Linked DNA regions of Homo sapiens. The protein of the gene in region 1 purifies or fractionates together with the protein of each later gene. This does not show direct contact. Each region holds a gene or a part of one and is shown in the gene's direction. Other genes may lie near its edges. The genes, in order: PMP2 and AKR1B1.

Evidence for each region.
Region 2: the proteins of PMP2 (region 1) and AKR1B1 fractionate together in Homo sapiens (co-fractionation; one large-scale study listed by BioGRID). This does not show direct contact.

The regions. Positions count from the first base shown.
Region 1 is NC_000008.11:81,445,266-81,449,185, reverse strand, and holds the start of PMP2 (myelin P2 protein), read left to right. Parts: upstream 1-1,746; 5' UTR 1,747-1,799; coding exon 1,800-1,872; intron 1,873-3,920.
Region 2 is NC_000007.14:134,445,575-134,449,394, reverse strand, and holds part of AKR1B1 (aldo-keto reductase family 1 member B1), read left to right. Parts: intron 1-275; coding exon 276-398; intron 399-901; coding exon 902-1,008; intron 1,009-1,333; coding exon 1,334-1,415; exon of another isoform or gene 1,416-2,013; coding exon 2,014-2,097; intron 2,098-3,820. UniProt on the Homo sapiens protein: Catalyzes the NADPH-dependent reduction of a wide variety of carbonyl-containing compounds to their corresponding alcohols.

The DNA.
Region 1 (3,920 bases):
ATATCATCATTTCTGTAAAGTGTTTTGGAAAATAAAATAACATATCCACTAATCAAAAGCTTTTTCTTTCACAGTTGTTTTTTCTATCCCAGTACAATGTACTCCCTCCAGTTACATTCTCTTGGGTTTAGGATTGGGTTAGTTGGTTAGCTGAGGAATTTTCCTATTCACCATTTCTTTCCCACCTTGAGCTATTCAGGCACTGGGATTGTAAATGAAACTTCAGCCCACTGTATATGATTTCACGTGTTTTACTCAGCTTGAACTCTAACTATGTAACTGCAATAGTTATGTCACAGCTATGCGACTGGGTTTCTTGAGCCCTTCTTGCTAGTAATTCTACCTGTTATGAGCAAATTCATCATATTTTTGTTGTTGTAAACAGTGCCAACCTGTTTACTAAATGTATAAAACTTGGTAATATCAGTTGTCTCCAGCCAGAATTAATGCTAAGGTAAAAACAAACAACAAACAAACAACAACAAAAACAAACAAACAAAAAACCTGCTAGGAAAGATATAGCAGTAATCAGAGATTCTCAAGAGCAACACTTATGTTCTAAGTGGATTTACGTTTGTTCCCCTTGGCCAAAGACTGGGGCTTTGATGTAATATAGTAGGCTGGATCTTTTGATTTTTTACCTCTCTTGATTTTTGAGAAGAGAGAGAGTGTTTCTAGCTAATCGTGGTGCTATCAGCATCAGGTGATCTCTGGCCAGGGCCTCCGTGCACGTAGCATGTATGGTATAGTATAATAGAAGCAGGGTAAGATCATGGTTCAGAACCCGGGCACTGGCAGCAATGCTGGGTTCAAACCTGTCCTCTCCTTATTCAACTTTTGGGAGCAATTTACCTAATGTCCCCAAGCTCATTTTTATCATTGGTAAAATGGATATAATAATAGTTCCTAACTCTTGGAATTAGTGATATAATTAAATGAGATCACCCGTATTAAGCACTTAGCACAGTGTCTGGCCCATAGTGAGTTGTCAATATAAATTAGTACTCTTTCTATAGAAAATCCTCTTTATAAAATTGTAGATTCATTTTAAATGACTTAAACACAAATAGTTATAGTATCCAGGAACCTGCTTAGTTCAGACTTTAAGTATTTCTAGCTGAAAATCTTTGTTGTGCTCAAAGAACATGTTATAGTGCTACTTCTTGTTTCATCACATGAATACAATTTCTGTGCTCTGCTGCAATAGACTGACTTCTTTGTCTGCCTACTCTGCCTGCCTGGGATATGTGAACTATGCCAAGCCTTCTTACCTATGAATACTTCCTCACACTGCTCCCCTACGTTTCTCTCCCACAACATATTTGAGACTGTTATCATAATACTTACAGACATTTTCCTCTTTTTCTTCCCTTTCAATAAGAATTCTTAATTGTGCAGACTCAGGATTGAGAGTGACCGACATGCCTAAACACACACACATTCATTCATGATCACAGAATTCATGCAGTCTTTTCCAAAGCATGAAGGGCCTAAGCCTTCTTATAAATGTAAGATTGATCAAAAAATTTTTGAAGATTCAAATAGTAATCTCATTCATTTTATAAATTTTTTTGGAGACAAAGGGAAGTATTATGTGGGGTTTTCTTTTATCCTATTGGGCGGGCAGCTGGCCATTGAAGAGCCATTCATTGCTTAGTCCCGACACTGCCTTTCCCCATTGGGTCTCTGTAAGAGTCACACGCTTTGGGCATCCTTGAAAAGAATCTTCTGAGGCCTCAGCATTTTATCTGAGTCTTCTGAATCCCACTTAGAACTGTGTTGAGCTCTCACCCATCACGATGAGCAACAAATTCCTGGGCACCTGGAAACTTGTCTCTAGTGAGAACTTTGACGATTACATGAAAGCTCTGGGTAAGAAATGCTTTTTGTTGTTCTGCTGAAAAGCTCCTTTTTAAGAAAGCTACATGACATTTTCATCTACTACTTTTAACAGGATACTGGGGAGTTTTGCAAGGCTGCAGTACAATCCTCTTTTAGGATTAATCTTTTGTTGTGTCATTCAGATAATTTATTTGAATTTTATTTGTGGTAATTTTTAATAGAATTAACTTAAATGAGAGAGCTGCTTAAATGCATGGAATGCCCACTGATTTCAAGGGCAATTTCATACCAAGAGAATTTTGGTTGCAGGTCCAGAGGAGAGAAAGCTTAAAAGCATGGTCAACCCATTTTCTGGCTTTTCTGAGAGCTACGTTCATAGCAACTGAAGTGTTCATAAAATAAGGAATTGAATATATTGCAAATCCTAGAAAATCTCAATTTAAAAATTTAAGTTTTAGCTAAACTAACAGTTTTTTCTCTCTACCTCTAGGTTGTCCTTTATTACACAATCATGTAGATACAGAGAGTTTGAAAAACAAAAATACTTCCTAAAATACTGTGTTCATAGTCTAGGGAAGTTACTGAGAGAAAAAGAACTGGAGTTATGGCAGTGAATTCAAACTCAATTTCGCTAACATCAGACGTTTCTGGAGTTGGAGCAGTGAGTGAAGATGGAAAACCGAGTCATTAGTTACAACAACTTTATTTTATACTATTTCTAGAGTATGTCCCATCGATATAAACACAATAGATATGAAGAGTCTTTGGGAATTTTCAGAACTATATAAATACAATAAAGAGTGATGCCAGTGACCCGAGTTTGCTGTGCTTGTCAAAGTGCCTACAGCTTTACTTAACTGTTCAGAAAGCCTGTATAAAATGTTCTATTTTAGATAAAATGAGCAAAGTCATGTCATTGTTGCCTGGAACAGTAAGAGAACTTATGGGGATCAATTCATACTGTGAGATCGGTTAGATTTAAAGACTTCACTTTACAGCTGAGGAAGAAGCCAAATAAAAGAAAGTCTCAGTGAAGGATTTTCTAATTCCACTGTTTTCCAGTTTAGCATGCAAAATAACACCTTGGGATTTGGTAAATATAAATTCTCAGGCTCTGACCCAGAGATTATGATTTAACTTGAGAAACATTGTCCTAAACTGTATAAAATAACAAAAGATTAATCAGAATTTGAAGAAAGAATATAGTTTATAGTTTATTGGCTGTAACTCTTAACTTCTTATTCAGTATGTAAAAGTTTGAGATCTTTTTAACTGGAAAAAGTTATTCAACCATTGAGACTTCCTGGAAAATTAGTTTTTCTTTCATATATTTTTTATTTTACATTTTCCCTTTTCCATATATTTTATAGTCTTGGTAATAATGGTAATAAACTTAAGAGTCTAATTTTGTTTCATTTTTGAAATGTAGAAGAGTTTTTTAAAAAATATTTTATTTCTCTATGATCATTTATAATAGTATAGATCTCAAAGTTAGATGGATAGTTTTTTTCCTACCAGCTAGATATAGAAGCCACAAAATTTCAGAAGTGAAATTCTATCAAAAATATGAGGGGAATACTTCTCTATATCCATAATATGGTATTGAGGGAAAATATCATAGAACAATACGTATATGCTATAGTCTCATCTTTAAAATATATCTATAGTATTTGTACATACAAACTAAAATCTCTAGAATGATTTATGCAAATCTATAATTAGTAATTTTCAATGGGGAATAGGATTGGATGTGATAAAAATGGATGACTTGCAGTAGCTATTTCAGCTGGAAACTTTTACTCTTGAAAATCTGCAGACATTGGCCGGGCGCGGTGGCTCACGCCTGTAATCCCAGCACTTTGGAAGGCCGAGGAGGGCAGATCACGAGGTCAGGAGATCGAGACCATCCTGGCTAACACGGTGAAACCCCGTCTCTACTAAAAATACAAAAAATTAGCCAGGCGTGGTGGCGGCCCCTGTAGTCCCAGCTACTCGGGAGGCTGAGGCAGGAGAATGGAGTGAACCTGGGAGGCGGAGCTTGCAGTGAGCCGAGATTGCTCCATTGCACTCCAACCAGG
Region 2 (3,820 bases), on another chromosome or scaffold:
CAGGATGGTCTTGATCTCCTGACCTCGTGATCCGCCCGCCTCAGCCTCCCAAAGTGCTGGGATTACAGGCGTGAGCCACCGCGCCCGGCCTGTTTGCTCTTCTTATCTCATTAAAGCCAGCCTGGCTTTCGTCTCACTGTCTCTTAGCTTCTGAAAGGTCTAATTCACTGGCACTGAAGAGTGAGGGCAGGACCCGTTAAACTGGTGCAAACGACACTTCTGATCCTGTCCTTTCTGGGTTCGTTTCTGCACCACACAGACACTTTTCTCTGTAGGCCATGGAAGAGCTGGTGGATGAAGGGCTGGTGAAAGCTATTGGCATCTCCAACTTCAACCATCTCCAGGTGGAGATGATCTTAAACAAACCTGGCTTGAAGTATAAGCCTGCAGTTAACCAGGTAAACATCCCCCAACGACACTGGCATTGCAACGTTGCTGTTTTACTGTCTGATGCTGGTAGGGATTTCTCGTCCACCTCACCCAGCAAGTGGCCAGGAGGCAGCTCCTGGGTGTTGGCAGAGTCCTGAGTTATGATTCAGCATGACACAGCACATCTGGGAGAGGAAACTTACAGGAAAGAAAGAGTTTGAGCCTGGCTTGTGACGATTTGGGGTCTGACAAAGAGGCAGCCATGAGATCCTCAGAACTGTGATAGTTGATAAGTGGCTAAAGCCAAGAAAAGCCTCTAGGGCCCATGAGAACATCTATAATAAGATAATAATAACACCAAGGATACTACCTGGGAACTGTAGGAAGTTACAGCTTATCTGGGAAATAGGGTGTTTGTTATACATAGTTTTCTGTATGGGGTAGGGAGGGACTTTAGCATAGGAAGCTTCATCTGTGTCCCATCAGCGTGTAGCCACAGTGCTCCCATCAGCTCTTGTTTTTGCATTTGCAGATTGAGTGCCACCCATATCTCACTCAGGAGAAGTTAATCCAGTACTGCCAGTCCAAAGGCATCGTGGTGACCGCCTACAGCCCCCTCGGCTCTCCTGACAGGCCCTGGTGAGCTTCCCACAGGCTCATGCTCCTGTGTCACTTGGTGAAGATTAGAAAAGACTAAAAAGAACAATTCAGCCTCAAGGAAGATGTTTCTGGGGGTGATCTGCAAAACTTCCCCTGAGCCTCTTGCTGGTTTTCCTGGAAGGGTTGGAGTTTCTAGTAGCAAGACACCTACTCTTTTTCCAAAGGGTTGGGGGTTCTTAACCCAGCTCTGAGGAGGAGACTGGTGGCTGCCCTCTGAGGTCGATGGGAGGATTAGGGTTGGGGTTTCTGGCTGCTGTGAGTGGTGGCCATGATGGTGTGACCTGGACTGTCTTTCTATCCTCAGGGCCAAGCCCGAGGACCCTTCTCTCCTGGAGGATCCCAGGATCAAGGCGATCGCAGCCAAGCACAATAAAACTACAGCCCAGGTACAGCCACTTCAGGTGTTGCTGACCGTCCACAACTGCCTGCATTCCTGACAGTCCTGTTAGCCAAGAGGAGGAAGTGACTGAGCCTGTTACACCCTCACAGGAAGTATGGTTAGGGGTCCTCAAGTACAGAGTGGAAAGGGCACAGATCGGGGTTTTAGAAGACTCTGGCATGGGCTCTTAGATTAATAGTGCCTGCCCCCACTACTGCAAGGGTGACTGCCACGAGGGCCAGCGCTTGTTCATTCATGTGGAACCTCATCTGTACAAATGTAAGAGCTCTTAGCCGTGCAGGGAATGTTCTTTCTCCTGAGTGGTAGTGTGCATTTCTAGCCAGTGGAGGGCCTCATGTGGTCTCATGATATGCCTGAGACACTGAAGCGTGTGGCACAGTGGCTAGCGCAGGACTCTGGAGTCAGATCTGGACCTGAATGCGTCGCCTACCTGTTGCTAGCTGTGACCTGACATCTTGGAGCCCCTCTCTGATCACCTGTGGAGTTCTAGCACGTCCTTCTGCAGGTTGTGTGTGTGAGAGACTGAGATGATGGGTGCGAGTGCCTGGCATGTATACACACTCACTGTCTCCTTGGGCTCACAGGTCCTGATCCGGTTCCCCATGCAGAGGAACTTGGTGGTGATCCCCAAGTCTGTGACACCAGAACGCATTGCTGAGAACTTTAAGGTAAGATCTTGGCTGGTCAGGCCTGGCCCTCCTCCATGGAGTGGGGGATGGGGGAGGCCTCTCATCCTGTCTCTGGAGTGTCATCTGTGGGATCACCACCATCCTCTCTTCTGAGGCCAGGGAGCTGTGGCGAGCAAGCCAAGACTGAGACTGACACCTCACCAGTGGAGCCGTGTGCAGGGGCAGGCCTTGGGCCTCCAGGGCCCCGTGCTGTGCACGCATACACCTACACCTTTGCTCAGGCCCTTCAGCCACACCGAGAGGTTACCCGGGGAGAATCTCGCTCTTGAGCTTCACTGCCTGGACCTGCCCTGCACTGGAGCTCTGTCAGCTACCAGCTGCATAACCCTGGGCAAGTCGCTTAACTGCTCGATGCCTCAGCTTCCCTATCTATAAAATAATATCCATTTTGAGGGTTGTTACGAAGATTAAGTGATGCATCAGAGCACTTCACATGGTGCTTAATACCTTAGTAAGTGATCGAGAAATGTTGCTGTGCTGATAAGTCCAGGGACTGCAAAGGACCCTCTGGGCCATTTAGTCCATTCACCAGCTCTGCAAGGAGTTCGTGTGATGATGGGCAGAGCCTAGACCTGTGTCAGGACTCTGGCGAAGCGCTCAGTGTGGCAGCTGGAGCAGCTCAGGCTACTTGGCGCCACCTCCCTCCCTGCCTGCCCTTGCAGCATTGGTGGCGGGGGTGTGGGGGAGGGGGGGGGCACGCCCAAAGGAGAGCAGCTCAGGGGAGTCCTGATGGCCCAAGAGCCTCTGTTCTCACTGAGCAAAGTGGCTCTGCCAGGGATGCTCTGTCTTTATCCAAGATCTGTGCCGAGCGCAGCACAGCCATGGGCCTGGGGCTCTTGGGCAGGCCCCAGCTTAGGTGAGCAGCTGATTTTGCCCAATTCCACTGCCCAAAGACTGTGGCCATAGTGCCTGCCACCTGTCACATATGAGACAGGGATGAGAGTGATCCCTGAAGAGGGAAGTGGAGCTCATTGTTTAGGAGAGGAGACGTTTTTCTTCTTACGTGCAGGTAGATGTTCTAAGTACACAAGATAAAATGGCAAAACAGTGGCCACTGAGGGAAAGGCATATCCCACCAGAGATGCATCGTTTGTTTCGTATTTCATTTTTTAAGGAATTAGGAAAGAAAAAATAAATGACTAATCTCAAAATGCTAACCTAATTATTTTATTTTTGCATCTTACTGTATAGCTTTTGCACATTTTTCTGTGATCATAACCACAGAGCCTGTAGCAGACTCTCTTTCTGCACATTCTGTGATCATCTGAAGCTAAGAGCCCTTCGGCTCTGGGAGTGTGTGTCAGCCTCTTGTGGGTCTCACCCAGTGGTGCCTGCCTGCCTCCCTCCCTCCCAGCCTCCATGCCAGCTGAGTTCTGTACCGTCTGCTGCCTTCATGCAGGTGGTTCTCTTCTCCCAGTATACCTTTCTTGCCCTCTCTGTCAAAATCTTATACTTCTTAGGCCATGTCAAATACCATCTCCTCTTCGGCTGTGGTTGTTCAGTTTCCCGGCTGGAATCCCTTTGGAATACCTCTGCCCTTCCTGTGCTGTTGAGTGTCTTATACAGTGTGTGATTAGTTATTTGTATTACAGTTGTAGAAATACCTCTGCCCTTTGTTTGCTTCATAAAATAGAGGCAAAGACACATCTTACCCATAATTATATTCCTCACTGCAACTTATCACAATAGAAGTGCTCAGTAG